6 separate regions of the Homo sapiens genome follow, and all the other regions are linked to region 3. The links come from fine-mapping of genetic effects on gene expression. A gene starts in region 3. Each other region holds a variant in brackets. All regions are shown on one strand. Distances are between the middles of the regions.

What was found. PIP is the estimated chance that this variant, and not a neighbour inherited with it, causes the effect.
Region 1: its variant is fine-mapped to the expression of RYBP in esophagus mucosa (GTEx, PIP 0.97).
Region 2: its variant is fine-mapped to the expression of RYBP in B cells (Fairfax 2012, PIP 0.95). The same link has a PIP of 0.9 or more in CD4 T cells, CD8 T cells, monocytes, monocytes after LPS, monocytes after interferon gamma and neutrophils.
Region 4: its variant is fine-mapped to the expression of RYBP in whole blood (INTERVAL, PIP 0.97).
Region 5: its variant is fine-mapped to the expression of RYBP in T cells (TOPMed, PIP above 0.99). The same link has a PIP of 0.9 or more in CD4 T cells, blood mononuclear cells, naive CD4 T cells and whole blood.
Region 6: its variant is fine-mapped to the expression of RYBP in unexposed skin (GTEx, PIP above 0.99). The same link has a PIP of 0.9 or more in sun-exposed skin.

What each region holds. Positions count from the first base shown.
Region 1 is chr3:72,508,508-72,513,815 of GRCh38, forward strand. No RefSeq gene overlaps it. Among named protein-coding and RNA genes, the nearest start is that of RYBP, 65 kb to the left of the region's middle. The variant G/C (reference allele first, on the strand shown) is at 3,269.
Region 2 is chr3:72,374,009-72,379,316 of GRCh38, forward strand. It overlaps RYBP (RING1 and YY1 binding protein), which reads right to left. Exons shown (of 4, transcript NM_012234.7): 2 at 5,243-5,308; 3 at 5,032-5,130; 4 at 589-4,629. The coding sequence ends at 4,377. Among named protein-coding and RNA genes, the nearest start is that of RYBP, 70 kb to the right of the region's middle. The variant T/A (reference allele first, on the strand shown) is at 2,915.
Region 3 is chr3:72,444,371-72,449,678 of GRCh38, forward strand. It overlaps RYBP (RING1 and YY1 binding protein), which reads right to left and starts at 2,253. Exons shown (of 4, transcript NM_012234.7): 1 at 2,126-2,253. The coding sequence starts at 2,253. RefSeq lists silencers at 2,570-2,629, 2,690-3,099.
Region 4 is chr3:72,407,205-72,412,512 of GRCh38, forward strand. All of the region lies in intron 1 of RYBP (RING1 and YY1 binding protein), which reads right to left. Among named protein-coding and RNA genes, the nearest start is that of RYBP, 37 kb to the right of the region's middle. The variant T/TGC (reference allele first, on the strand shown) is at 2,424.
Region 5 is chr3:72,342,377-72,347,684 of GRCh38, forward strand. No RefSeq gene overlaps it. Among named protein-coding and RNA genes, the nearest start is that of RYBP, 100 kb to the right of the region's middle. The variant T/C (reference allele first, on the strand shown) is at 3,325.
Region 6 is chr3:72,334,583-72,339,890 of GRCh38, forward strand. No RefSeq gene overlaps it. Among named protein-coding and RNA genes, the nearest start is that of RYBP, 110 kb to the right of the region's middle. RefSeq lists an enhancer at 361-927 and a silencer at 4,819-4,928. The variant G/C (reference allele first, on the strand shown) is at 2,507.

The DNA of each region.
Region 1 (5,308 bases), 64 kb after region 3:
GGAGCCACCGCACTCCAGCCTGGGCGACAGGGCGAGACTCCGTCTCAAAAAAAGAGCTTTTTACAAGTGACCCCACACCCCTTGTCTAACAGAAGGAGAAACTGAGGCTTAGAGGGGTTAGATGACATCCCATAGCTAGATAGTGGCAGAGGAAAACAAACCCAGCATCTAATACAAAGTATACAAAAACAGGAGAATGCTTAGCACATGGCGAATGTTCGATAAATGTTATTTATGTTGTTGCTCTTATTGCTGTTATTATTATTATTATTTTCTTTTACCATCCATCTGGCTCAGAATACTGTTATTATTATCTGACTTAAGAGTAAGTGCTCTTAACCTTGTGAAAAAGTTTTCCCATGTTTAGATGATGTCTCTTTCCTATCCATTTCTCCACACTGTGCAAACCAGGAAGAAGGATTGAACACCCAGGACATCTAATCTTTTCCAGCTTAAAGCAATCTTCCATTTGCTGGTTCCTCAGAAGAAGGACTGTCTAAATCCTCAGAAATACAGTGGAAATGAATCCTTCAAAAAGATCACCGAGGGAGAGCAGAGAAGAACAGGGGACTGGGGAGAATCCATCAGGAGGAGGAGAATCTTCCAGACCAAGGTTGGCAAACCACAGTCCCCAGCCCCATTCCGGCCCAGTCCACTGTGTTTGGTAAATAAGGTTTTATTGGAACACAGCCACACTCATTCATGTATGTATTTATTACCTATGCTGCTTTCTGCACTATAACAACAGAGTTAAGTAGTTTCAAAAGACAGCTAAAATATTTACTATGTGGTCCTTTACAGAATCGGTTTGCCAACCCTTGCTCTAGGTTGTGGAGAGGAGAAATGTGGGCTGGAGAGGGTTTGTGATCAGCTGGGTGTCTGTCTGTCTTTTATTGTTTTCTGGATGCTCTAGGAAAATCCAGCTAAGAGTTGCTAGGGGCCAGAATGAGACACCTTACAAGAACTTTAAGTAAGGAAGCTACGGCTCTCCACCAAAGTTAAGCTTTACGTCTATTTGTGATGGCTCAGAGCTGAGACATGCAAAGTCCTCTGAAGGTCACTGCATCACTCCAAGGTGAGACGCATGTGACTCTCAGTGGATCAAGGTGATGGCCTATCTCAAGAGAGACTGACTAGTCAACAAAATGGGGTTTGGTCAGCCTTGTTCACTGAGACAGAGCAGAGGTTATTGTTGGCACGACTCCATTCGGGCACTGGTCCAGGTGAGGGGAGGCCTCCAGTGGATGGAATATCTCAAGTGGGAAGACCATTTCTACAAGGCCTTCTATGTTGAAGGAGCTCTTAGCCTATTGTCCTTGAACAGTCAATCACCTACACAATGCCCTTGTTGCAACTCCACGATCTCGAAGCAACCTTCTGGTTATGACTTGGCTCCTTCCCGTGTAGGTCTGCCAATACCCCATATGCCTGGACGGGTTTTAGGGTGACTGAGAACTCCTGAAATTGTGTGTGCAATGTTGGGTATATGTGAGAATGCACATTATTAAGGACGAGGTCCCCCATGTTTGTTAGAGTCTCAGAGACAATGAAAGTTTAGAAAAGAGACCCAGCATTTATCTGTGTGAATGTTTTAATTAGGGCTTCCTTCCACCCTCCAACTGAGGGCAGGAACTCTGTCTCAGACACCATTGTTCCTCCGGCACTCAGCCCTGTGCCAAGCTCATAAGACATGCTTACTAAGTATTTGTTGCAGCAAGAATGGAAGGAAGAAAATAAAGAGGAGAGGCTGGGGACAATGGAGGATGGGAGGGAGGAAGGTTGGGGTTGGTCATACAAACATGAGTGTTCAGGTCGCTGGGATAGAATTTTCATTGTAATTTAGGAAACTGACCTTCTGATTTATACAACAGTCTCGTGAGCATGGTTAATGGATTTTCCCTCAGGCATAGACCTGTTCCTGGTGTGCTGTCAAATCAGGATTCTTAAGCCTGAAAAGTTTATGGCCAGAGCCTGGACCTGGGTGAATGCACAAGCAGGTCTCCTCAGGAGACAGACAGCTGGCTTTTCCCCAGGTGGAGAAGGAGGGCTTTAGTTTTCCTGTAATTGCATTTCTACTGCAATAATAGTGTCTGCTGTCTTCTCGCAGTGCTGGGGACATTCAAAGCCAGTGTGCCAGTGCCTAGGACAGTGCTGGCACCCAGTAGGTGCTCAGCAAACATTTACTGTGCAAAGGGATGTTGTGCTATTTTGGGTAACTGATAAAATATAGATTTGCACAATTGTTTTTGCAATTACAGCTAAAAACATGATTGAATAACCCACAAGCTATAGTCTGCAACTACAGACATTCTAAAGTAATAAGGCTAACAGGAATTCAAAAAACCAAATCATTACTAGTTTTGAAACACAGTGTCCCTAAACAGACACGAGAGCCTAATGCCCAAACCAGCCCTCCTGCCTATGGGGTTTTCCAGGCCTTGCTTGACACCTTCTAGATGGTAGCAGTTTACAACTTGGTAGGCAGCAGCATGGAGCCTTAAAAAAGAACAATTTCAATTTAAGATTTGGTTGAGGATTTCTAGATACTTAGTGAAAATTCATAAAGCTGCAAAGTACTGCTCCATGACAACTGAAAGATGGTCATGTCTCCCGTTGGTGACTTAGGTAGATCTGTATCTTATTCTCTCATTCCCTTCTCAGGGCACACACACACACTCACATACACACACATGCGCATACACACAGCTTGATTTCTTCTGAAAAAAAAAAAAAAAAAAAAGGAATACCTGTGTGGTGCTATATTATTTATCTATTTCTGTGTAACAGTTTACCCCAAAACTTAGCAATGCAAAGTAACAAATGTTGATTATCTCAAACAGGCTCTGACGGTCATGAATGCAGGTGCAGTTTACCTGCGTGGTAAGGTCTCCTGAGCTCTCATGAGGGTGCAGCCAAACTGTCCGCCAAGGCTGCAGCCTTAGCAACGTTCAACTGGGGCTGGAGGAGCTGCCTCCAAAACCACTCATGTGTTTATTGGCTGGCCTCAGTTTCCTGCTGGCTCTTAGCCTGAAGCTTTAGTTCCTTCCCGCATGAGCTACTATATAAGGTACTTATACATGGTTGCTTGCTTCCCTCAGAGAGGAGAAACAGATAGACTGACCAACAGACAGACACACAGATGGACAGGGTCAGAGACAGGAAAGAGAGAGAGAAGTTGCAGCTTTTTATGACTTAATTTTGGAGGGGCATACCATCACTTCTCTATAGGCCATTGGCCACACAGACCAACTGTGATACAGCACAGGGG[G/C]GAAATAAACAAAGGTGTGTCTATCAGGAGAAGGGGACCACTAGGGGCCATCTTGGGGATCACTAAGGGCCACAAATCCCTTGACATTCCTCCCTGCAAAAAGTAGAAAACGAATTTCCTTCCCTTTGAATAAGAGCTAGACTCAGTGACTTTCTTGTTACAACAGGAATGAAGTGGAAGTGATTTTGCACAGATAAGGTCATAAGAAGCATCGCGACATCCATTTTTCTCTCTTGAATCACTCTTTCTGGGGGAAGACAGTGTCCGTGTTGTTAAGACACTCAGGCAGCCCTATGGAGAAGCCCATATGAGAGGAACTGAGGCCTCCTGCCTTACCAGCTGGCTGGTCATAAATAAAACATCTTAAAAGTGGATTCTCCAACTGGCCAGGCACAGTGGCTCATGCCTGGTAGTCCCAGCACTTTGGGAAGCGGAGGTGGATAGATCATTTGAGGTCAGGAGCTCGAGACCAGCTTGGCCAACATGGCGAGACCCTGTCCCTACTAAAAATACAAAAATTAGCCAGGTGTAGTGGCGCTTGTAATCTCAGCTACTCAGGAGGCTGAGGCAGGGGAATCGCTTGAACCTGGGAGGCAGAGGTTGCGGTGAACTGAGATCTCGCCACTGCAGTCCAGCCTGGGCGACAAACTGAGACTCCATCTCAAAAAAAAAAAAAAAAAAAAGCAGGGTGTGGGGGGGATCTTTCAGCCCCAGGCAAGCATTGAGATGATTGCAGCCCTGAGTGCAACCTCATGAGAGACCCTGAGCCGGGCCACCCAGCTAAGCTCATCCCAAATTCTTGACTTACAGAAAATGACATGATAAATATTTATTATTATTTTAAGTCATTAAGTTCTGGGGTCATTTGTTATGCAATGATAGATAATACAAAGTGCTAATTGAATTTCAGTGTTCTTAGCTGCAAATAACGGAATCTGCCCTAGTTAGTTTAAGTAGACAAGGAATGTGTTAAAGGATCTACGTAGTTCACTGAGTTCCTGGGAGAACTAAAGGATGAGGCTTGGAGCTACAAAGCCATGACTCTTCCAGTGGAGACCCTTCTGCTGCCATTGCTGGGCACAGACCCCCTATATTCTAGTGACAGAGTGCTGCCATTTTGCTTCCGTGAGCTGGATGTCTCCACCACCACCACTTGTAAAGAATGAACTCCGCATGGCACTTACTTCTAAACCAAAGCCTGTACAAGAATTTGGTCATATATCTGTTCCCTGGTACAATGGTTCATTTTATGTGTCAACTTGGCTGCGTCATTGTGCCCAGGTATTTGGTCAACCATTATTCTGGATGTTTTTGTGAGGGTGTTTTTGAAGGAGATCAACATTTAAATCAGTGTACTTTGAGTAAAGCAGACTGCCCTCCCTAATGTGGGTAGGCCTCATCCAACCAATTGGAGGCCATAACTGAACAAAACCTGATCTCCTCCAAGCAAGAGGGAATTCTGCCAGAAGACTGCCTTTGGACTTGAACCGTAACATTTTCTCCTTCCTGATCTCCGTAATTGCGTGGGCCAATTTCTTAAAACAAATTTCTCCCTCTCTCTATCTACACATCCTATTGGTTCTGTTTCTCTGGAGAACTCTGATTAATACACCTAGTTACAAGGGAAGCTCATTAAGTGAGTTTCTGGCTTAAGCACGTTCAGACCCATAAGAAGAGAAATTCTACAGATATTGGAAAGGTGTCCTAGTTGCTAGGTGGCCACAAAGCCTAGCTAATATCCACTATACTTGTTATGTTAATAGTCAAACTGGCAGGATGCAGTGGCTCAGGCCTGTGATCCCAGCATTTTGGGAGGCTGAGGTGAGCAGATGGCTTGAGCCCAGGAGTTCAAGACCAGCCTAGGCAATATGGTAAAACCCCATCTCTACAAAAAATTACCTGGGCATGGTGGCACATGCCTGTGGACCCAGCTACTCAGGGGGCTGAGGCAGGAGGATTACCTGAGCCTGCAAGGTCCAGGTTGCAGTGAGATGTGATTGTGCCACTGCACTCCCGCCTGTGCGAGTGAGATGCTGTCTC
Region 2 (5,308 bases), 70 kb before region 3:
TTCCTTCCAGTGCTAGTTCAGGTGCAGACCCAGGACAAAATAATCGGGGATGGATCTTGACATGTTTTAAGTGGTTTCTTAATTCTTTGGAAGGTTATAGACTGGTATGCCTCAGCACCTGCAGCAGCAGGCAGGAGTCTCCCTCGCATGGGGCAATAAGTGAGCTTGTGTGGCTTTTAGGTTAGTAACACACTTTATTCACATCTCTGAGACATAGTTGACCTAAATCCAGTTGGCCAGAAACAGGGGTTGTCTTTTGAGGATTTTCAGTCCTCAATTAGCATATTTTAGCATCATCTCCATTTTCTTTCCTTAAATCCCATTTCCTTCCTTTACATCATTGCAATCTATCTCAAAGGTTACACTTAGGAGACAGTTCATTTTCTTTCAAATTTTGGTGATTCTTTTGCCCCATTATGTCTCCTTTTGCATCTTTGAGGTATGTACTTAAGATACCCAGCTATTTCAGCTTCTGATAAACAAGTTCTAAAATACAAAGTGAGCTTCCTATTCACATTGGAAATATTCCACAGATTAAAAATTAACTATTATTCTAAAGGCTAAAATCTATACACACAAAAATAAAGATTTCCAATGTAAATTTTACTATTTTATTTGTGAAAAAACTACAAGCAGAATTCATAAATAGACATTTCTATTTAAAGCAGGAAAATGATAAAGTGGCTTCTAATAACATAGTCGTGCACATGCCAGTAACAGGAATATATTAACATCTTTTATTTGCTAGACAAAGAGCAGTGTCCAATATAAATTTCCCCCAAAACATTTAAGACCTGTGAATTTTTGACCAGTTCACAAAACCACCAACTGACACTTTAGCATGAAGAAAAAAACAAACCTAACAGACTGTCAGCTCTAAAGACATTACAGAGCAGAAACTTCCAAAAGCGTTATACAAGCTGTCTTTCTGGGCAAATGAAAAATATAGCTCGTATAATACATTAACAAAAATTCACAAGATAAGATTGTTTTGACATACTTAACAAGCATTCTCTATTTGTCTCCAACAAACAAAGCTAAGGAAATAATGTAACCATCTTTACACAGTAAATTAAGGTTACAAGTCATACACAAGAACAGAACTGCTTGCGCATTAAAAACTGTTCAGCTCCATTGTCATACTCTAAATGTTGGCTCTTAAACCATTTTCGGTTACATACAAGCAAAGGTTATTATATATTCAGCAATTAATAAATTTTCAATAATTTAAGATACGGTAGCTTAAAAAAGTAGACTGAGAATGGTCTTGATAAGGCAGGTGAAACATCTTAGTGGAACTAAACTCACAGAAGCTTCTGCCAATGTTTTTAAATATCCAGATTGAAACTGAAAGGTTTTGATTAGAATATTGTGTGGGTGTCAAGATGTCTTTTTTTTTGTAACTGCATGACTCAAGCAGAGCAAGTCAGGTAAGCTCTGTGTGCGCGCACACGCACGAGTGTGAAAGATTGCGTGGTATTAAAACAAATGGAAACTTGCAAGCGTAACACTGTGCTTTTTGTTTGTTTAACCTGCTTTCTGTGCCACTGAATACCAAGTATTTCTGGTCCTCTTTTAATGTATATCTTTATAATCTACACTAGTGTTTTTACACGCTGCCTACTAATTGTAGGGCATACTGCAGACACAGGAAGTTACAGGAATTCCATTTCCAGAATACATGCCTGAGGGATGTCATCAATTTCCAAAATTAAAAGTCTATAAAGTACCTACTACCTCACTACCCAACAGAATACACCACAGCAGCTAAAGGGCTGGCCCTGTAACATCTGATTGCTTAGATAACTCCCACTGTTAGCTGCGGTTTCTACAAAGATGGTAATTTCATGCCACTTGTTCTAAAGCAATCTTCTTCCCCTTCCTTCACCCCTCCCCATTCTTTAATTTATCACGGAGGCAAAACTGAAAAACCAAAACATTGGCATGAATGAATTAGCAGCCTATGAGTAGCTGGTTAATCAGCTTTTTCCACTAATCTATGGGGTCCAATCACTTTACATGAAACTAGTTTTTGAAAAAGTACACAGTGTGTCTGAACAAAGTGCATACCAACAGTTATTGGTTCAATAAGCAGTGCAACCTACATGAGTTTGGTGGCATTTAAGTTTTTTCAAAAAGTTAAAAACAGCAATTTCTTAAACCTCTGGAAAATAAATATGGCTGACTAATTTACCCTCCCTGAGACCCTTAATAAAAGGAATATTAAAACTTTAGAAGGAATGTCTTTGCAATATCCCACCAATATTAAAATGTGGATTTAAAATTCATAGTCAAATCACTATGTATTATATATTCTGATGCTTATAGAAAGCATCTGATTTCCTTTGGTTCATTAATAAATACTTTAAAAATGTATTTAAAAAGATAAGCAAAGCTTGCATCCCAGACACAAGCATTATTTTAAAAAGGGGGGAACATTGTCCATGCATTTGAGAATAGGACCACAGCAACAAATGGCACTGCTTTATAATCTATACCTTTGAGAAAAGAATTTAAATTATGGTACATTAGTGACTACAGAATAGTTTTAATGTAAATGTGAAAGGAACCTTTCCTGTTGGCTACTCAATTCAAGCTGTTAATTTTTTTATTTGTTGCCTCCACAGACAGAAATTACTGCTATTATTAAGCAAACCAGGTTTTTAACACCAAAATGTGGTGCTTCATTACAAATCAGGCTGCCCTCCCGTGAGTCCCTAAAGGTCAAATAAAGAGAGGTAACCTCAAATTCTCATGCTTGAAATGTCTCTGAAGTACTACAAACTCTGTATCTAAATGTAAAAGTCAAATAGAAGAGAGACCCCACATCCAAACAAAAGCAAAACAAAATTTTAAAAAATTATTTTAATAAGGAGAGGTGGAATCTTATTAGTGGTCTTTGATTATTTTTTTT[T/A]TTTTTTTTTTTGCAAGACAGTAAAAAGAGTGAAGAGAATGAAATAGAACAGTTTACTCAAGCTATCTTTATGTCCAGGAAGAAAAAAGATTACATGCTGCTCGCAGTAAGTACGAGCTTTCCCTGCAACTCTGGCTGCAGGCGCGCAAGCCGTTCACCACTGGAGTTCCTACCACAGCAGGGGATTGAGAAATGTCTCCAAACACTGAAAAGCTCCATGTCAGGACTGGATGTGTGGTTGATAACCTTTGTTCAGTAAAACAAATCATAGTAGGTTTTGAGAAGGAAAAAAAGAATGCTCACAACTGAATCGGTAGAGTGAAGGTTTATCAGACAAAGGGACATGAGGCAAACAAATTTTAATTACAGAAACCACCACTGCAATGTCATGTAGAAAGGAGAAACAAGGGACTAGCTTCCTGGATGGACCAAAAATACAGTTTATAGACTGTTTCAATCCTAAAACTAAGACAATTTCTAGATTTACCTCAGACATGAGTAGAGGTCTGGAAAATGGATGGAATTCAAGTTACAGAATACCATATTTTCATGAGTGCTTATGTAAGAACAGCAAATGATAACATGTAACCGTAATTTACACGAATACTTGGCATTCTGGAGCTACTTTAGTTACTTTTGAATGATCAAAGCCCTGCCCAACTAAACCACTTGTGATTTGTCAGTTATTCCATTGCAAATGCAGGCTATCTGGAGCAGTCTTTAAATTTGAGATCACATTGTTTAAAAAATATATATTTTTATATCGTCCAGTACTCTTTAGACAGATGAGAGAGTCAAGTTCCCACATGGATTGGAACATACTTCATATAAGACTGATTTTAATTAAATTTCAGCACTTTCATAGAAGGGACTGTCCCAGATCTGTAACTGTTCAATGTTGTATTCACTTCACAGTGTATCAAGCACCAGCGTTGCCATGGATTGGTTTCAAATAACCCTTTATATATAATTTTATATTTATATATATATAGTTATATCAAAACTGATAGTACATAGTATAACTGGAAGAAAGAACTAAACTTAAAAGGATATGCTGAAAGGATGGAGTTTGTGAACACAATAAATAAAAGTTCCCTCCCCCTCCCAGCCCTCCCCACCGGCAACAAAACAAAAACAAAAAACCAGTTGTAATGTACATGGAAAATTGTGCACAGCAGATTTTTTTTTTTTTATAAAAAGTAGATTCAGGAGCACATCCAATTATAAATGATTGTTAGGAAAATCATATAAAACAATGGAATACATAAAAGTGTCAAGAGTAATCGTCAGGGTGCGAAATTCCTTGGTGGCCAGATGCCCATGGCAAGCAGAAATTATCCTGGCAGCATCACTAAGAGGTCGATGTCCACAGAAGATTCTCCAGGGATGCAAGCAGCATGGGCAGGTGGAGGTTTTGAATTTCATACCCTGATTCATAGTTTTCACAATTCCATGTGCAATTTCAGAAAGATTCATCATTGACTGCTGACATGTCGCCCTTTGGCGTGGAGGAACGGGAGGAGCCCTTGTCTGTGCTCTCTGACCCCGAGCTGCTCTGGTTCTGCTGTTCTGACCCTGCACTGGAGGTCACTGTGGATGAGGATGTCGATGAGGAGCGAGTCTTTTCCTTAAAGTCTGTGATAATGACGGTGACGTTGCCCACAGTTACTGCCAACTGCTGTGCAGTGCTCCTGTCCACGTTTTTCAGCCGGGGCCTAGAAGCAACACCACAGGGGAAGAGCCAATTAAGTAAGTTATGGATCAAAAACAGCTTCTGGCAGAATATCATCAATACGCACAAGACTTCATGACACTGTGGCAATGAATCCGAACTGCCTACCACACATGCCAAAGCCGACTACAGAGTGTGCTACTCAGTTTTAGCAATAATCCAACAAGCACGGATAGCAAAGCTTGGGACCAATGTAAAATTACTATTATCTGTTTCCTGTTCTGGCCACAGTATTTAAAAAAGAGAAAAAGTCACCAGCCCCACCCATACTTAGCTCTTCACCTTCTTAGCCTACAAACCCAAGGCACAAAACCACCCTGGATTCATGATTACGATTAAGTAAATCAGAGCAGTGATTTAGTATGTCATTCTAGTTTCCAAGTACCTTGAGGTGTGATTTGTTTCGCTGGTCTTTGTTGTAGCATTTGCAGACTGTATGCTGTTTGCTTCACTAGGAGGATCTTTCAGAATGTCAGACTTTGGTCTAAATGAGGGAGATACAAAACAAACAAACAAACAAAAAAAACAGGCATTTAGAAGATATCTTGAATTCACTTGCAAAGTAATATCCTGTACTTAGTTAACCAGAAACTTACTTGGTTTTCTTGTTGGTATTTTTCTTGGTAACACTAGGACTAATTTCCTTGTCTTTCTCAGGTTTC
Region 3 (5,308 bases):
ACAAAGGGATTAACCAACAGTTAACACACAAGACAGGATAGGATGAAAACCTGTCAAACTCACTTCTCCACATAAAACCTGTTCATAATGTAGGAAAACCAAAACGTTATTTGCATTCCAACCAACGATGACTTCTGAATAGATCTAAAACACCAAAATATTGACAATAACCAAAATGAAACCAACTGTGGCCAGCTAAGAGTGTCATGAATGCACACAGTTTTCAGTCCTCACACCTGTTAAATCTGTATTCAAATTCTATTAAATGACATCAGAAAATTACTCGAAGACCCTTAAAGTAGACGCCTTTCCCTGTTCCTGAATAGACTCTAAAATATTTTCACTGTAAATAATTCAGTAGTTTTAACTAAGTTTCAACAGTCATCTGCGGCTCTGAAAAAACTTTAAACATACATACATACCTTTTTTAAAAGTCAACACCTTCCATGTGCTTCCGAAAAATTGATGAGTAAGGTTTTTTAAAATACATGTTAAAAGCTGAAATGCACTTCATTATGAGATAATCATTCCCAGCGATAAATCAGACATAAACTTTTGAATTTGGTTTACGTTTCTCTTCACCAGTAATGTTCTCAAGTTCTTAGGAGTTTCCTAATCATTTACTTGAACACCATCTACGGTAACACTCAAAGCAAAACCACAATAAAGAGGTTTGGCCTCTGAGGGCTTCTACATGTAAAAAACATTACTCATAAATAATATACAATCACTACTGCTTTAAATAACAAATACATTTCTAAAAACTTTCATGCCATTTGATGGAATTCCCTATTTTAGACAGCAAAACAAAATCTATGAAACTACTGATGCGTGTTTTTTACTTTAGATATATTCCATGATAATACAAAACACCGACAAAAATTTCTTAAAACAACGTATGGAGTAATATTTTTAGTTTTTGATTATTTTTATTCAAAGGTATCATCATTTAAAGAGTGCAATTCACAGAAACAATAATTAGGCCAATTAATCTCAGAGTTAGATTATTTTAGGTTGCCCAATAATCCTATTTAATCCCAAGTATAAATAAACCAATGAAACCTTAACATGACATATTCATCTAATCAAAGAACAATATCCAGTTGGAACTGTGAAGTACTACTACACAGTCACACTGAAATGTCACCAATTCAAAAATAAGTACCTGATAAAATGAGACTTTTGGCAATCAACTGTAATGTTCTAAAGGATCCACCAAAAACTCATTCTTGTCTCACACACACACCCAATGCCTGTTCATTAAATGACACCAAGAACAGTTTAACTTCAAACTCTAACGCCAATGAAACAAATTCAGACATAAATTAAAAGATGACCAAAAGACTACATGAGTCTTGACATTTTATCCAAGTATTTATGAATGTTAAATCTAAAGTAGTTAACTCGTTTTAACATCACATGCAGTTTACGACCTTCATCAAAATGAAAAGGAATTCTTTCAACATTCTTTTCATCATCACAGAGCTTTAAACACAAACTTCCACAGTCACTGCTCATTTCACCATTTTACAAAATCGTCCCCCATCACCACCCCACATAAGCTAGTCAAAGAAAAAAAAAACTGACAGCTCAGTCTCCCACAAAATGCACTTACTTTATCAAATACCGACATTTATTTTCAAGTGCAAGAAAGTAACAGACATTTGCAGCTCAAGACAGGAAAAGCACAGCCAGCCTTACTACCCCCACTAAATTTCTCAGACAAGAGAAAAGTAACTCGGGACAGGCAAATTAAAACCATTCTACACATGGCAAAAATATAAAACATCTATGTCCTACAATCCATAGCGATAGTACTGCTTCCTCTCTTCCCCAGCCAATACCAATAAGCCAATAGACACAAGTGTCAAATAAATCCAGTGTCCGTTTGAAATAAAATGAAAACCTGGAAAAATTCCCTCCCATAAATCATTTAGCGAACACAAGGCTTTTCACCCAACACTTAATACACTCAACCCAAAAACACACACAACCCACCCGCAAATACAAAAAAAGCCGTAATCAACAAGTTGGAAAAAGGGCAGAAAGTAAGGCTCACTACCCTCTCACTTAAAAAAAAAAAAAAAAAGTCCTTTAACAAAAGGTAACACAGATCTTCAAGTACCTGGTGGAGGTGCCTTTCCTCACATCGCAGATGCTGCATTTAAAGGCTTCAGCACTGTTTCTGAAGGTGCAGACGCTACAATCCCAAAACCCTTCGTCTGCGGCAGGTTTCGCTTGTCTTTTTGGCCTTCCGAGGAGTGGAGAGTGGGGGAAAAGGGAGGGAAGAGGCAGGGAGCAGGAAAACGGGGGAGAGACAGCAAAACACAGACGCGGGTGAGCCGTCGTAATTTCGCAGGAATCCAGTGCTGGAAACTTCGCTCGGGAGACCACCCACCCACCCTTTCCGGGGACTGGAAGAGAGAGCGAGGAAGGGAACCGGGCGCCCCCACTGGCACCCTGCAAGCCCCGGGCCCGGGCCGGATAGCCTCGCACACCAGGCGGTGGCGGCGGCGCCCCGGGAAGGGCCGCGGCGGGCGCAGGAAGCGGGCGGACTTGTGGACTTGAGCGTGGGGCTGGGGGGGCCGGGAGGGGAGCCGCGGGCCGGATCTGGAGGGGGCGCGCAGGGGCAGCCCGAGGCCGGCGACGGGGAGTGGGCCGGCTCCTTCCCTCTCCACTCCCAAGCTCGCGCCCTCCCTCCCTCCCCACCTGGTTAAATCCATCACAGTCTCCGGACGAGACTAGTCCCCGCCAGCGCCGCCTCCGCCGAGTGACTGACGAGGGGCGGGGCCTGGCGCCGCGCGTCACGCGCCGTGCGGCCAATGGGAGGGCGGCGGCCGGCGCCGCGAGGGCGGAGGCGGGGCGCGGGGGAAGGCGGGGCGTGGCGGACGTGGGCCGGGCGGTCGGTGTGCGTGCCCGGGAGTGTGTGCGCGCTGGGGGCGCGCGTGCCTGTCGGTGGCCCCGCGGCCCGGCGCGGCGGAGCGTGCAAGCCCGGCGGGGCGCACGTGGCCGCGCCCGGGAGCTGGCAACTGGCTTCGGGCCCCGCACGGCGCCCCGTGAGGCTGTTGCCGGGACCCCGGCCCCGAAGCCGCCCCGGGGAAGTAGTTCCACGCAGTTTGCGCGCGCCGCGGGAGCTTGCAACAGCCTCACCGCTCGCAGCGCCTCGAGGCTTGCAGTGCCCAGGGGCCGACAAGGTCCACCTTTGGACCGCGTTCCCCCGCGCCCCTCTGTTCCTCTGCCATGCGGAGCTTTGTATTTGCCTCTTCTGAAGTCCCTGCGTCCGGCCGAGACGCTGGCCCGAAGCCCCACTCCCTGTCAGGCCCCTGTCGCGGGAGGGAACAGTAGAGAAAGGGCGTGGCATAACTAAATGCCCCCAGGCCAGACTCTGAGCTTCTGCTGGCGGACTCCTCCTGGGATCCTCCTCTCCCCTAGAGTCTAAATAGGGCGTTTCCTTAGGGAAGTTGCTATTCAAATTCTGGCGACCACATGCCCGCATTAAAACCTCGTGCCTCAGCTCCTTCATCTCCAAAATGGGGCTCATCCTCCCAGGGTTGTTTTGAATATTCGGAGAAATCAGGCATGGAAGGTTCGCTGATGGATGCCTGGTATTCACGAAGGACCAAAACAAGATATTGGGTATTAGGAGCTATTATAACTGGGCCTGAATTGTGCACCATTTCCCCCGCGTTCGATTTTTGAAGTCGAGGAACAGGGTAGTGCCCTTCACTTTCTGCCCTGCTCCAAAAACGCTTGCCAAATTGACTTGAACGTGACTCAGGACCCTCTGTCCTCAGGCAGGGAGATCTGGTAGGAGGACGACCCCAGATGATAAAAGACACAGACGCGGCTGTGCTGAAGCCCCAGGTTAGGGGAGGGACGGAGTCTTAGAATGCTGCTAGGAGTTGGGGCCCGGGGGTGGGGGGATTGGAGTTAAGACAGACCCTCAGCCAGGTTTATATGCAAATATAAAATAGGTTGTTATCAGGACTGCCCCATGGAAGGGAAGCATATCAGGGCTTGCCACCAGGGAAGCTCACTGAGACTGAGCACCCAGGGAGCAGAAATTCCTAGAGATCAGTCCAGGGATCAGAAGGGAGAGAATAAAAGAGAGAATGAATGTGTCAACAATAAGTTTGATCAGCACGCAGTGTCCTCTCCAGGCAGGCGCACCCAGGAGGGCCAGGAGAAGCAACACTGTTTAGCAAGGGTCAGCAACCTCTCAAGGCCTCAATGCCACAGCTGCCTCCTTAGGGGAGGGATGAAAGAAGGAAGAGGAAGAGAGAGGGATAGCGTTCTAGGGGTAAAAGGGCCGTAGAAAGCCAAAGGGTACGTACACAAGCCATGGCCCAGTGCAGCTGCGCCATGGAGCAGCCTTGGCCTCTGGTGTCTCCCTGGCATGCTCCCAGGACTCTGCCCCTGGCATGAAGGTCGTGACAGAAACGGGGCACTAAGAAATCCTCACTGGAAGAGTGGCCTCCGGGGAGGTAGCTGGGAGCCATAGTAGTGGAAAGGAGACTTTGTTATTATTCTATACATAGAATAAAATACACAAATTTTCACACTGCAGCTTAGTGCATACATCTACACCCCTCTTTCCACCATTAGAACAATAAAACATTTTATCCTCCCAATGAGTCATCCCTCACTTAGGTAACCACAATTCCGACTTCTGTCACCAAAGATTAGTTTTGCCTGTTCTTTAAGGTCATATGCAGGGGTCATATGGTCTGTACTCTTGTGTCTGGCTGGCACCTTTCGCTCAGCATATTTGTGATATCCATCCACGTTGTTGCCTACATCAATAGTTCATTTTTGTTTGCTTAAGTGTGTAGAATTCCATTGCAAATACACTGTAATTTATCCATAGGAGGTTGACTGTTTTAGTATGTCGTTTTGTATCTTTGTCTTGTGTTATCTTTTCAAAAAAGAAAAAGTTTTTAAAAATGTGTTTAAGAAGGGCCAGGCACGGTGGCTCACACCTGTAATCCCAGCAGTTTGGGAGGCCGAGTGGGTGGATCACCTGAGGTCAGGAGTTCGAGACCAGCCTGGCCAACATGGTGAAACCCTGTCTCTACTAAAAATAAAAAAAAAATAGCCGGGCGTGGTGATGGGCGCCTGTAATCCCAGCTACTCGGTAGGCTGAGGCAGGAGAATTGTTGGAACCAGGGAGACGGAGGTTGCAGTGAGCCAAGATTGCACCATTGCACTCCAGCCTGGGCGACAGAGCAGGACTCCGTCTAAAAAAAAAAAAACCAAAAAATCAAAAAAATGTGTTTAAGAAAAACAATTTCAGAGTAGAGAACTATCT
Region 4 (5,308 bases), 37 kb before region 3:
GAGCTGCATTCAAAACTACTAAAGTTACTGGCATATTACAGTTAAGAATTCAAATGCAAGTCACGTATAGGTCAACTCCTTAGCTATTAAAATTGCCTAAATACAAATAGAGACACCTTGGATAAAAAGCCTGTGCTTTGTTATATAGGAAAATTGATAGCCAGTGTTAATTATCTGTACCAATAGGACTCTGCCCCCAATACTGGTTATATACACAGGTTAGTGTATATAATAATTCAAAACTAAACTCACCTTATGAATAGTTTTAGATTTCACTGGTTACTTGAGCTTATCTGTGCATCTGTTTTTGCTATCAGGCTGTTGCACATCTTTGATAACAAACGTTTACATTAAAGCATAAGGAGACTTTAACCATTAAGCAGGCAGTTTTACGCATGAAAAAAATCAAGACTTGTTTACCAAAATTTATCTCAAAAGTAAAAAATGCAATGTAATGTTCACTTCACTATTTTAAAAACAGATCCATTCCGAGGGCCAATTACAATTGCCACAATGAGAAAAATTAGTTCTCTCAAAGAACTAAGGTGAATCTGGGCCAAATGTAAATTACACCATCCTGGCACTATTGTTTGAAGTCACTTTCCACCGAAACAGTCTCCCATCAATGCCAGAAGTGTCTTTCAACACCTATCCCACTTACTGTCCATAAACTTTCCACAGCTACACTTGTACAGTCTTCACTGACCACGGTATACAGAGACAGATGTGAGAACAGGTTATTGGGCATCTTAACGCTTATACCACCTGTTAGCTAACAGTTGCACACCTGGCCTCTTGACTGAACTCTGTAACACGTGAATTTGTCAGCCTGACACAGATGCCATACGGAGCCTTAAATGAATGAACAGAAAAACAATGCTTAGCAAATGCCTTCAGTCTCCAAAACTTCTAAGTTCAAATATACATGAAATGCTTCTTTAAATCTGCGAAGAACATTACATCCCACCTTTTGATGACATAATTTAAAACACATTTTATTCATATATTTATTTCCTTCCCAAACACAGTTACACTTTGAAAAAAAGGATGACTTACATATGTCTTCCAATAGAAATCTTTGTTTTAACAACAGTAAATTCTTAGAAATGTGTTCTGCTCCACCATCACCATTAAAGCAATGGTATGACTTTATATTAAAGTATTAACTTATAAATCAATCTCTGCGCTGAAATAATGCTAAATTGCTTTATCGTACATCAGGCATCTTTTTCAAATACATTCCTTTTCATGCAGTACATATAAGTTATTTCTATAAACTCAGCAATTTAATACTTCTAAACCATTTCCTCCACTTTATTTCATCCAATTGATACAGCTTAAAATACTAAACTACCACTTCTTCCTAAAACTTTTTTTTAAAGTAATAACCCTGTTTATACTGGTTTGAGTTCAATTGCAAGTTAGAAGTTATTACAATTTCCCTTTTGGAGATTATGAGCTAAACCTATGAACACCAAAAAACATTCAGAGCATACAAAGCAAAAATATTTGATGCATGTGCCTATAGTCTGGATGTGGTCTGTCTCCACCAAAACTCATGTTGAAATCTGATTTCCAATGTGCCGGTGTTAGAGGGTGGGGCCTAGTCAGAGGTGTTTAGGTCATGGGAGGGATACCTAATAAATAGACTATGCCATCTTGTGGGAGTGAGTTCTTGCTCTCACAGGATTGGATTCATTACTCGAAGAGTGGGTTGTTCCTTCTTGCACATGCTGGCTTCCTTCCATTTTCTGCCATGAACTGAAGGAGCGAGCACAAGACCCGCAACCAAAGGGGCTGCCCAATGTTGGACTCTCCAACCTCAGAATCATGAGCCAAATAAAATTCTTTTCTTTATAAATTATCCAGTCTCAGGTATTGTTACAGCAACACAAAATGTACTAAGATGCACACTAGAGAGTACAGTCAGTGGATTCACAGTGGATGAACTGGCAAAGCAGTTATAGCAGTATGTTGCAATAAATCATGACTTTCTATAGAAGAAGCTGAACACTTCTTGATATCGTAAGAATCTACCTGATTTAAATCTCTGGGGCTGAGGGGAGGAAGCTGACAAGATGCTGTAAGGCATTTCAGAAATAAATGTAATTACGAAGAAGGTTTGCAGGTAGGAATTAAAAACTTAAGTGACTCGCTCTATCTGTTCTACAGAAGGTAAAGAAGTGTGAGAGAAAAAAGTGTTGTCCATTCAATAAATGTAGCTTTGAAATGTAAAACAGATATAATGTGTACAGCCAAATATTTGAATAAAAGCTTTATTTTCATTACTTCTTTGGGTGGTTAATATGGTTAAATTACTCACTGACGTGGGAAGTTAAATTACTACACACAGTTCTTAGTTTTACTTTCAAGAAAATTCAACTGTTACTTTCCTCTGCAAATTCAGAGCTTTCACAATACAC[T/TGC]GCCACTACTCATTCATCAGTTGATCTTTTAAAAATAGGTAATAAGCATTATCAATTGTGACCCTTCTTCACAGTATGACCAATGTTCAATGTAACAGAACAAACTTAAAAGTCTGACTAAATCCTTCAGTAAATAATTAAAACAAAAACAAGTAACTGTTTCCAAAAGAAGGAAAACCAGCTTCACCTTTGTGTTCCGCTGTTTGGTGCCCTTTGAATGTTTCGTTCTGGGTTTTTGTTTTTTGTTGCTTTTTGAGACGGACTCTCCCCCTGTCACCTAGGCTGGAGTGCAGTGGCATCATCTTGGCTCACTGCAACCTCCACCTCCCGGGTTTAAGCGATTCTCCTGCCTCAGCCTCCTGAGTTGCTGGGACTACAGGAACCCGCCACCACAACTGGCTACTTTTTTTGTATTTTTAGTAGAGACGGGGTTTCACCAACATGTATGCCAGGCTGGTCTTGAACTCCAGAACTCAGGTGATCCGCCTGCCTCAGCCTTCTAAAGTGCTGGGATTACAGACATGAGCCGTCGTGCCCGGCCACTGCCATTATTAATACTGCAAAACTTTACTGTAAAATGCCTACCTTATACAGCAAACGTGTATCAACAACTCATTCAACATTCAACCAACATACATTAGGTGTTGACAAACCTAACAGTCCCTGCCCTCCAGGGATGGATAGAGATAGGAATGGTGAGGCAATTCTGTAAAATATTGTTTTTAAATGTGATAGATAATGATTTTAAGTGCAGGTACTGCGGCACAAAAGAGGGAATACCAACCTTGTGCTGGCAGTTGACTAAGGGCTACACAAAGGAAGTGACTCTTCAAGTTCAGTGAACTAGGTGAACAAAGGGAACATCCCTAACAGAGAAGAAAACCTATGTAAGGTGAGAGACAAATAAAAAGTACAGGAATTCCAAATAATTTGAGCAGCCAAAGCACATTACTGCCTGTGAAAGAAAGGACTACAGGCGGTTCACTAACTATTTGGGTTACTGAAAAGCCAAAAGCATATGCCAGGTTATGTCTTAAAGTACTAAGAACAACTCTGCAGGCAGTTTTGTTTTACATTTGTAAATCTGAATGAGAAATAATATCACAGTGTACTCTCTAGGTCCATGGCCTTTCTCAGTCTGAACCACAGAACACCCAAAAAATGACATGAGTGATTATTTTCTCAATTCTTCCAACTATCTATTACAACTAGTACCATTTTGAATGCATAGGGGAAAAGGTAACTGTCTACAATGGAAGTCTTGGAGCAGGAGGGCTAATTCTCTCAGAGCTGGTTAAGAAAGGCTGATGGGTATAAGAACTCTTTGCAGTTACCCAAATACTGAACACACAGAACTCTATCTGAGGTTTGTGCTCTTATCTGAAAGCTAGTAAACAGTAAGGAACTTTCACTGTGGTTACAAAAGAAGTAAGGTACGCTATTTTCCACAATCTATAAAAATGTGCAAATAATTTAACTGTTAAGCCTTATCAAATAATTACTTATCTTTTACTCTAAGCTATTTAGAAATTTTAAAGTATATTATAAACCATACAGACATCTCAGAGTACAAACCTAAGGACATTTTACACACATATAAGGAGAAAGAGAAATCAACTTTAGCCCAGAGAACAAATTGTAAACAAACAAATAGCAAAGATTAAGGATGAGTCAGCCAATTCATAAATCTGTTACAAGAAGCCATCTCAATGTTTATCTATGGAAACCAATGTTTAAAAAAAGAAAAAAAAGGATCCCCCATATCCCATGAAGCCATTTCATCAGTGACAAGAACTACAGATGCACCTTAGATGTGCTAACAGCCACGATCTGCAGGGAGGTGAACAGTAAAGTTGGTTTATTCTTATCAGACTCGAAAGATTCAGAAGGGTTCCAAACAATCCTCTTTCGCAGCTATACTAATGATGAGAATAAGAGACAAGAGATACTACCTTTATATTGCACCAAATGAGATTCCATTATTTGTTAGCAGGTTTAACTTTTTATACACATTTTATGCCCACATGAAGTAGAGCAGCCTAGAGCTGAGGTAGTAGCACAAGTCTCCCAGTCATATCAGCATTCCTTCCCCAAATGCCCTCCCTCCCCACTCCCAAAGACACTAATAAACAAAAGTGTCAAAGAATACTCTTCAAAAACAGAAAAGCAAAAAGCATAATTAGTGCTGAATCTTGTAAGGAAAACCTAATTAAACCACACAGTGAAAATGCAGCTAATGAGGGCAAAACTTGTTATGCTTGGGGAAGAATTAAAGAAGGAAATCAAGTCCAGTCACCTGTTATCCACATTTCTTCAACAGCCTGCAAAACATGCTTCCTGATTTGTAACTGAGGGAAAACATCCAAATCAGCTTGGGCAATCCATTCAGTTTATTAGGCTATGCTTGATAAGAGGACAAAATCAGACTACCTACATAGCTACATGTAGCTCTTTGCTAACTAACTGTAGCCTAACCAAAAGACTGTGGTTAACTCAGTAGTACCTATCATCACCAGAGAAGACTTGAAAACACTCAAAATCCATTTCAGGCAAGCTCCAAGATAATGTATGTTTAAAAGATTATAACATGCTTATTAAAACACCGTCCTTATTTTCCATATTAGCACTTCTGTGCATCAACTATGCTGGAAAAACATTGTGTTAAGTTAATGTCTGCATGAAGCAGGTGCTTCATATGTTACATCAATCTCCACATAACTGTGTAAAATACAAAATAAAAGAGATACCTTCCAAAAAGGCACAACTAATTCTCTGATGGGAATAATCTTGCAGCAGAGCTTATATGTTAATCCACCAGCACTCCAAGTCACTCACTTTCTCCCTCACAGAGTTTTCATTTAAGAAGCTTCGCAGTAAAGCACCAA
Region 5 (5,308 bases), 100 kb before region 3:
CCACAAACTCGATGGCTTAAAACAGATTGATTCTCTTAGAGTTATGGAGGTCTGAAGTCTAGCATCAGCGTGACAGCAGGTCTGCATTCCGAAGGTCTTCCTTCTGAAGGCCTCAGGGGAGAAACCATCCCCTTTGTCTCTTCCAACTTCTGGAGGCTGCCTGTGTTCCCAGGCTCATGGTCCCTTCCTCGGATCCCTCCAACCTCTTGCTTCCCTTGTCACATTGCCTTCTGTCCCTCCAGTCTCCTGCCTCCTTCTTAGAAGGACCTTCGTGATCCCCCCTGGACGATCGTCTCTTCTCAAGATCCTGAGCTTAATCACATCTGCAAAGTGCCCCCTGCCTCAGGGCCTTTGTGTGTGCTGTTCCCTCCACCCGAAATGCTTTTCCCCGAGACATACACATGGCTCATTTCTTCGCCTCCGTCAGGGAGCTGCTCATATGAAACCCCTCGCCCCATGCTTGACTTTTCTCCATCCACTCATCACGAACTGGTGTATTAGAAATTGATGTTTTTATTTATTTTCTGTCTCCCCACAGGTATATTATAAACTGCAGAAAGACTGGGACTTTATCTATCTTGTTGACTACAGCCTCCTCAGCACCTAAATCAGTATCTAGTATCTAGCAAGAACTCAAAATAAATAATGAGTGAACAAATGGGGCTACTGAAACTCAGAGAGGGGATGTGACTTGTCCAAGGTCACAAATTATAAAGTGGCAAAACCAGGGATTTGAACCCAGGTAGGCCTGACTCCAAAGCCTTAATGGTTTGGCTCAATGACGCCTGTCAGCCTCTTAAAATTTACTTATGTGGGTACCAGGCCTTCAGGCCCTTCCCTCTGCCTTCTCCTGGTGGAGGATGTGGGCTCCTCTGTGACTCACACTAAGAAATAACACTGAGAGAAATCGTAATAGTTTCTCTTGGCCCAGAGCATTAGATTTTACAAGAGACTGAGGGCACTGCGAGAGCAGAGAGCCCACCTGTTTCACTTGGCATTGTCTAATCAGTACTAGACACATAGTTGGCACATAGTTGGTGCTCATGAAATCTTTGTTAATAAATGATGAATGACTCTCACTTGATTGCACAGAGAAGATCTGCTCTATATGTATCTATTCACCTATTCATCTATCATATGTCTAGCCATCCATCCATCCATCTTCTATCTCTCTGTCTGTCTATCCATTCTTCTGCCCATCCATCCATCCATCCACCCACCCATCTATCTATCTTATCTGTCTGTTTCTATTTTGTAGCAGTTCCTAGACTCACAACGTTTACCCAACCGTGGGATATTCAACTGGAAGAACACAGAATTCTGAACAAGGTTCCCCTTCTTCCCAAACTGTACCATGGAGGTCTTTGCTCTGGGAGAGCAGGCTTAGGAGACAGTGAACTTTAGGAACCCCCATTTTTCTACTCGAAAGTCCTAGCCTCATTCCCTGCTTCTGTGCCCATCCCTCTTGCCTCTGTCCCTCTTGGTTTTGTGATCGGTCCCACCCAGAAATGCCTTAGGACTAGGCCTCTCCCACCTCCCCTGATGCACCTGGTCTCAGAGGTCAGGGAACATAACAGTGACCCTGAGGACACAGAGGTGAGGAAAAGGCCCCAGGTTACCCTTCCTGCCTTTCAGCCTGAGCTGTGCCCTCTAAATCAGCCAGAACATGTAGACAAATGTGGTCTCTTAGACTCCCCCATACACCTACCCACATTTTCCCCACCCACGTCTCTCTTCTGTACCTACCTCTTCCTTCCCCAGGTGAGATTTTTGAGAAAAACTGAACCTTATCCTTCTCTATAGTTTCCTTCCTACCAAGTTACTGGAAAGAGAAGTCTTGAAACCCCCCCGTGTTGGGAGAGGAAAAAAAGCAAGAAGAAGGTGTAAACAAAGATTAATTAAACCTCATATGCAACCCAGAGGAACAGCCTAGGGCAGCTGCTGCAGCTGGAAAGATATTCCCCAAAGGGGGACAGGATGACAGGAGGGCCACTTGGGCTGGCAGACAGGATGTGGCAGACGCTACATTGAAGAATAAAGTTTCAGGACAAATCTTGCCTTTGAGCAAGATTTGAGGAAGATATGTTGGCACACCCAAGGAGGAAGCTCTAATTCATGTCACTGTAGGATTCATTCAACTCCATACACAGACATTCCAACCCACCACTGAAGTACTACAATGACCAGCATTGGTGAACTATACTCACTCCAAGTCTTTGCTTTATAATTGTGATGATCATCCCAGCTGGATGTAATAATAATTAGTGCAGCCACTAGTGTTGTTATGGCCACTGAGAGTCGACCACCTACTACGGGCCAGGGCTCCGCGCTCAGAACTTTATTTCTATTAACACTCAGAAATTTCACAACATCTCTATGAGGTAAGATGTGCCTGTTCTACAGATGAGAAAACTGAGGCACAGAGTTAAGTCACTTGCCCTGGACCACAAGACTCTTCTCATTTCCACTTTACAACAGAGGTCAGCAAAGCACAGCCCCGCAGGCCAGGCCAGCCACTGCCTGTTTTTATAAAGTTTTATTGGCACACAGCCATGCCTGGTTGCTCATGTATTACCTCTGGCTGCTTTGGGGCTACAACAGCAGAGTAGTTACCGCAGAGACTATATGGCCCCCAAAGCCAAAAATATTTTCTTTCTTTCTTTTTTAATTGAGACAAGGTCTGGCTCTATCACTCAGGCTGGAGTGCAGTGGCATGATCTCAGCTCACTGCAACCTTCGCTTCCAAGGCTCAAGCCATCCTCCCACCTTAGCCTCCTGAGCAGCTGGGACTACAGGCACTCACCACCACGTCTGGCTTATTTTTGTATTTTTTTAGAGACAAAAAATGCAGGTTGCCCAGGCTAGTCTCAAACTCGTGAGCTCAAGTGATCCACCCGCCTTGGCCTCCCAAAGTGCGGGTATTACAGGCATGATCCACAGTGCCCGGCCAAAAGCCAAAAATATTTTCCATCTGCACCTTTAGAGAGAAAGGTTTCTGACCACTGCCCTAGAATTTATTCTCTGCCGGTCCCCAAAGGGATCTTTAAAAATGCTGACTCAAGTCATGGCACAACGTGTTTAAAATCTTTTGAATAAAATCCAAATTCCTTCCCACAGCCCAGGAGGCCAGTAGGATTCAGTACCTCTCCCACTCTCACCCCCACTGAGTACATTCCAGCACTGGACATTTTTCCATTTATGAGCTGGGCTCTTTCTAACCTCAGGGCCTTTGTGCATGCTGCTCCCTCTGTCTGGAATGCTTTTCCTCCAGCTCTAGGTCTCAGCTCAAATACCACTTCCTCTGAGAGGCTTTGCCTGACACTC[T/C]CCATCCCCACACCCAGTCTATTTCCTTTCTAGCAGTGATCACAGTTTTTGTCATTGTTTTATCTGTCTAATCTCTCTGGGCTGCAAGCTCCTGGCGCTGTGTTCCTGCTGCTCTATCACATAGTAGGTGATCTATGAATATCTGCCAAGTGAATGCAGCACTGGCATCCAGGCTATGGGACTCCCAAGTCACATGCCTGATGCAGACCCTCCTCTCCTCTCTTTCTTCCCCGCACTGCATTCAGAAAGCAATATTCATCAAAGTCTACGGAGGAACTAGATAACTCCAAAGAGGTGGATAAGCAGGCCTCCGCCCTCAACAAATTCCCTGAGGACCAAATCCTCCCAGTTCAGCCCCTTTCCTCCTTCTTCAGAAATGGATGACCAGAGCAAACAGGCCCCCACAATGGCTGCCTGGGAGCAAGCCGCTTCCCCAGAAAGACTCTTGCTGCTCCACACCCGGGCCCCGTCAAAGATGCCCCCAGTCCTCATCCCCCAAGGGGCCTCAGGACATAGCGAGGCTTCCCTGGAGAGGGCAGCACTGCAGAACAGGGATTGGTGCCGAATAGGGACCAGATCCAGGTATAGTGGGTTGAACGGTGGCCACCAAAAAGACATGTGTAAGTCCTAACCCCTGAAGCCTGTGAATGTGACCTGATTACATTTGAAAAAAGGTATTTGCAGATGTAATTAAATTAAGGATCTCAAGATGAGATCATCTTAGATTACCTGTGTGGGTCTTAAATCCAATGACAAGCATCCTTTTAAGAAAGGGAAGAGGTGAAGATACCAACACAGAGGAGAAGGCCATGTGAAAACAGAGGCAGATATATTGGAGTGATGGGGCCACAGCCATGGAAAGCCTGGAGCCAGAATCTGGAAGAGGCTGGGAAGCATTCTCCCCCAGCGCCTTCGAAGGGAGCGTGGCCCTGCTGACAACTTGGTCAGACTTCCGGCCTCCAGAACTGTAAAAGAATACTTTTCTGTTGTTGTAAGCCACCAGTTTGTAGTTAATTTGTTATGACAGCTACAGGAAACGAATACACAGGGGAAGAGCGAACTCACCTCTTGCTTCAGCCCATGAAGAGCATGCTTCTGAGAACCACAGAATTTTCTGCTGGAAGGAACAGCAGAGCTGAGTCACCCGACATTGCCTAAATCCCAGCATCCCGGCCCCACCTGACTGCTGTTTCTACTTCCACTCACCACCCTGCTGCTCTTCCCTTAGCATTTGCCTTCTAACTGACTTAACTTTTTCTTACTCAAATGTATTTACAGGCTGGGAGCCATGGTTCATGTCTGTAATCCCAGCATTTTAGGAGGCCGAGATGAGCGGATCACTTGAGGCCAGGAGTTTGAGACCAGCCTGGCCAACATAGTGAAACGCAGCCTCTACTAAAATTAAAAAAATTAGCCTGGTGTGGGGGCTATGAATATTTGTTGAGTGTAATCCCTGCTACTCAGGAGGCTGAGGCACGAGAATCACTTGAACCCAGGAGGCTGAGGTTGCAGTGAGCCAAGGTCGCGCCACTACACTCCAGCCTGAGCAACAGAGCGAGACTCTATGTCAAAAAAAAAAGCCATATAAAATATTTACAAATAGAACTTTATGTCACTTATCAGAGGGAGAAGCAGCACCGCATGCATTCATTCACTCCATCCTCTTATTCTGTCAACGAAACATTTATGAAGCACTGACTGTGAATGGGGCAGTATTTAAGGCTCTGGAAACACAGTAGGGATGAAGCAGACAAAAAAACCCCGTCCTTGTGGAGCTTGCATTCTCGTGCAGAAGGGGCTGGGAATAGCTGCTGACTTGTCTATAGCTATGAAGATTAAAAATATTCCTTGGGGCCAGTCATGATGGCTCATGCCTGTAATCCCAGCACTTTGGGAGGTCAAGGTGGGAGGGTCACTTGAACCTAGGAGGTCAAGGCTGCAGTGAGCCATGTTCATGCCACTGCACTCCAGCCTGGCAACAGAG
Region 6 (5,308 bases), 110 kb before region 3:
TGGAACCCAGTCTTGAGCCAAAGTCCCCAGCATCCTGGGGTAATTCTCCCTTTCACAATCCCTATTTAACAGACAGAAAAGCAGGGCTCAGAGAAGTTAAGGAAATACACTTAGCTTAGAAGTTAAGGTCACGAAGCAAGTGTTCTGGTTTAATTGTGCTCTTTCTCTCAAAGATGTGTTGAACTCCTAAACTCCAGAACCTCAGAATGTGACCTTATTTGGAGATAGGCTCTTACGGAAGTAATCGAGTTAACATAAAATGATTAGAATGGGCCCTAATCCAATATAACTGGTGTCCTTATACAAAGGGGAAATGGACAGAGACAGACATGCACAGAGGAAGACAGTGAGAAGACACCAGGAGAATGCAATGTACAAGCTAAAGAACGCCTGAGGCTACTAGACGCTAGGGGAGAGGCATTCTGGGAAGGCTTCTTGGAGGAAGTGACGCCTAAGTCCTGAAGGATGCATAGGAGTTAGCTGAGAGATGATGGGAGGGAAGCATATTCTCTGTAGAGGGGGCAGCTTGGGGTTCCGGGAGTCCTGCTGTAAGGACTGAGAAGCTCGCAGGCAGTAGCTGGAATGGTGTGCGTGGCAAAGGCCTGGGCTGGAGCAGTGCCCGGAGGCAGGATGAGGATGGCCTTTGTTAATTCAGCAGGCAGGCCGTTTGGATGTCATCCGAGGGCAGTGGGGAGCCATCTGCCTTTTTCTTCTGAGCCTTGTCACCCCAGCGGGTGTCCTCTAAGAGCATTTCACACTGTGGCCTGGCCCTCCTCCTTGGAGCCTGGAAGTGAGAGAAATGGTGGGTTTGTGCTCAGCAGGAGAGGAGCTGTCTTTGCAAAGCCCCCTCGGGTCTGGGAATTAAGGGCTTCTGCTGCCGACTTCCACCCTGCAGCCCTTCAAAAAGTGTCATCACTGCCAAGTGCAATTCCAAATAAAGAGACGCCTTCGCAGAGCCACCTGCGGGTTGAGGGAAAGCTGGAAGGCTGGGGGGCATCACTGCGAGGCCCTCGAGGGCTGCTCACAGGAATCTCTCCTAGGGGGTGGCCCCAAGCTGGAGTCCTCTCGCCACCAGCCCCAGAGGCACTGGGTGGAATCCTTATGTTGTTACTGTTAATAGAAAGGGTTTCTGGATAAAGACACCCTCCTCCTACCTCCTAAGGAGCCCAGGGCCTGTAGAGATTGTCATTAAGATTGCTGTTATCGACAGCAAGGTCCACATGATGTGGAGATTTGGATGCTGTTCTTCTGCGGCCTCCCCTACGCCCATAAAAGATAGCTTCTCTGTGTTTCCCAAAGCCTTCTCATACATTCCTTTCAGATATGAATTCCTCAGCCAAACCAGAGCTTTGGAAGTGTCCCTGGGGCCTCCCTAGTCTGAGGAGTGCCTCCACCCACCCACCCCAGCTTCTGGAGTGCCTGTGCTTCCACCAACATCCACTCAACTCTTCACCAATGCAAAGTCAATGAATGTTGTCAACAAACATGTCAGGTAACCAGTACAAGATAGAGCAGAAGCTGGGAACCTGGGATAACTGGGGCATGGAAAACACCTCCCCACCCTCCCCAAAGGCCCCAAAGATGCACATGTGGCTTTCAGTACCAGGGCAGGTACCATGCCACCCTATGGGCCTCAGGAAGTCAGCCAGTTCTGGCTCTTCCACTCACTACCTGCAGCTTTGGGCATATTACTCTAACTCCCAGAACCTCAGTTTATTCCTCTGTAAAATGGGTATAGTACGGGCACCGACATCATGGGGCTACTGTGAGGGTGCAGGGTGATAATGTCAACAGAGCACCCAGCGTGGTATTGGGCACTTAGGAGCCCTCGGTGACTGGAAGCTGCAATAGGGCAGGGGGTCATGGAGCCAGGTGAGAGAAGGGGCATGGAAAGAAGCTTCTAGAACCCCCTGTGGCCTGGCCACCAAATTGCCTGGTGGGAACAAATGAGCCCCAAGTCGGCAGTCACAGGAGCTACCAGATGCTGCCCTGAGCCCTCTCCACGTGTTCTTCGTTTCATCATTACCCAGACCCAAGCAGGTGGGCTCTGTTATCCTCTCTATTTTAAAGAAGAGGAAGCTGAGGCTCCTAAACCCCAATTAATGTGCCCAATGTGATCACAAGGCTAGTAAGTGGTGGAGTCCAGGTGCCAGAAAGAGGTCCAGAGAGCACCTCTGCCTAGAGTGTGGCCCGCTCGAGCAGAAAGCAGCCCCAGTCAGCCTGAGATGAACAGCTCTCCCCTCGGGCTTAGAACTCCCAGCTGCTTCTCTGAGCTGGACTCCTGCCAGTGTTCACCCAGGTAACGGAATTGCCTGGGGAGCCCTGCTTGACTCCAGGGAAGCCGGCGGGGGGGGCCCCCAGGCAGAGAAATGAAGTGAGCAAGACACCTCCCGTCCCCAGCCTTCCCCCGCTCATCCCTCTCCTCCAGAGGAGCTGGAAGGAGGAGTTCCTGCAGAAAGAGTCCACACCCAGGAGGACACTGTGCTCGGGCTTATGCCAGGAGGCC[G/C]CCCCCTACCCCAGCAAGGGCGGCGACAGGAGGCGGAAACCCTGGGAGCAGAGGGGGAGGGGCCGGCCCAAGGAGTGTCTGAGCGCCTTCTCCCAGGCTGCCTGGAACAGGATGTTCCAAAACGAGGAGGCTAGCCAAGAAGCAGGGCGTGTGTGCGTGTCTGTGTAGCGTATGTGTGTGTGTGCGTGGTGTGCATACGTGCATGTGGTATATGCATGTGTGCATGTGTGGTGTGTGTGCCCTGTGTTGTAAGTGCACGTGCACGTGGGAGGGTGTGGTGTGCGAGGGCTATGTGTGAGTGTGGTGTCTGTGTGTGACGTGTGGCATATGTGATGTATGTGGTGTGTGTGGGTGTGTATATGCATGTGGTATGTGCACATGCACACGGTGTCTGGTGTGTGGCGGGGAGTGTTTGTGTATGTGTGGTGTGTGTGTATGTGTGGTGGGTGTGGGTCTGTATGTGTGTGATGTGTGTGGGTGTGTATGTGTGTATATGTGGTGTGTGGGTGTACGTGTGTGGTGTGTGGGTATGTGTGTGGTATGTGTGGTGGTTTGTGACTGGTGTGTGTATGTGTGTGGTGGGAGTGTTTGTGATTGTGTGGTGTGTGTGTGGGGGGGAGGGACTGGCACTGTGGAACACCAGGACAGGATCTGAGTGTGGGTGGGTTAGGTTCACCTATGTAGAGCAAGGCGGAAGTGACGAGGAAGTGGAGGAGCAAGAGGAGAGGGAGGAAAAGGAAGGGGGAAGCGAGGGAGGCAAAAGGAGGAGGCCAGCGATTGCAGGGGTATCTCATACTCTCACTCTCCCCTACCTGGGGACAGCAGGGGTGTTGGAAAGGGCACTGGGGGTCCCTGCTCTGAGAAAACCCTCATGGGGCATCCAGGTGGTGGACTGGAAAACTGTCCCAAGGGTCTTCTGCCCTCTCTCCATGGCCGTCAGCCCCATGGCCTCTCTGGCTGACAAGTGGGTTCCCCTGAACTCATATGTCAACTTAATTGCCTCCCCCTGCCCCTATCCTTCCTGATGAATAGGAGTAGCTGGCTGACTGGGGACCACTTATTCTGGACATTGCTGAAGAGGGTCAAGGCATGCTTTCGGTTTGATCTAGGGTTTCTGTCAGTGATCGCTAGTGATTCATGTGATACTGTAAGAAGTCAGTCAGGGCCTTGGTGTTGACAAGGTTAGATGATTGATTGACTGACTGACTGACTGACTGACTGACTGACTGATGGTCACTGTGGGTTTCACTGTAGCTGGCTGGCTGTGATCTGGACTGACCAGGCCATGGACTGTGGGAGCTTGTGACTATGACTGGGCCAACTGCAACTGGGCTGATGGATTCAGTGGATTGAACATGACTGGTGAGGAGACAGGTTGACAAGGAGACCAACTCATTGACCACATGCATGATGGACTGACTGGCCAGTTGATGACAATGGGTTTGGTGTATGGTTGACTGGTTGGTTGTTTAATTCAAACTGACTGGATAACTAGGCAGCTTACTATGACTGACTATTGTGACTGCCTGCCTGGCTGACTGAGGGAATAACTGAGTCAGTGTGACTGGCAGGCTGATTCAGACTGACTGGATGTCTGGATGACTATGATCTCCTAACTGATAGCCGTCAGTGATGATCTTGACTGACTGACTAGCCGGCTCTGGGATTGGCTGTCTCTTCCAGACTGACTTGGTAACCGTGGGTCTGACTGTGACCCCTGCGTCTTGACTGACCGCCTTGATTGCATGCCTGACATTTTGAGATCAACTGACTGGCTGGTTGCCTGGTGTTTCATTGTGGCTGTGGCACAGCCTACGGCTACCTGTGACTAACCATGAAACTGACTACACCCAACTCACAGGACAGACCGGGTGGACTGACCACCTGCCTTAGTCATGGAAAACTGACTCTGGCTGACTCAACTGCCAGAGACTGACTGAGATGAACAGGCCAGCCAAGAGACAGCTGGGTGACTCGTGGTGAGTGGCTTTGTCTGACTGGATGGCTGTGACAATGTAACTGAGTCTGGCTGTGAGACAATAACCTGTGGATTGACTGACTTGAATGTGTTGACTGGGTGGCTGAATCTGATTGGCTATGTGGGTGACTGATGACTCCTGGCTGACTGGCTAACCCTGCCTTGACTGACTGATTGATGGGCTGACAGATCGAGTTTGACCAGGCAGCAGGAGACCTGCTGACCACGGCTGTGACTCACTGTGTGAGCGGCCATGTCTGACTGTGTAACACAATCTGACCAAGAGACAATGACTAATTGACTGACCAACTGACTGAGATTGGCTGGGTGTCTGACTGACCAGCTGTGACTGCAACTCCTGATGTGAGTGGGCGTTGACTGGGTGGCCCTGACTCGTATAGGCAAGTCTGGCTGTGAGACAACAGCTAACTCCCTGACTGGCCCAGTGTGCCAACTGGCTGACTGCTTGAGGCTGGCCAACAGACCAGCTGACCGTGCCTGGGACTCACGGTGTGCGTGGCCATGCCTCACTGTGTGGCCCTGGCTGTGTCTCGGAGTCTGACTGTGAGACAAGGGCAGACTGACTGACTTTCCTGGCCAACTGCCTCCAGGTAGCCTGTCAACACAGTCCCTACCCTTCCCAAAACCATTAAAGTGCTGCAGTGGGAGCTGGCCCAGCCTGAGGGGACAGAGCAGCTTCTGTGGAGCAGCAGGGACAGGAAGAGGGAAGCAGGAGCCGCTGGAGGGAGAAGAGGAGTAGGCCCTGCCCAGGAATGGGCCACACGGAAAGTTCTCCACCTCACCCTGGCGGGGGCTGGGTCACA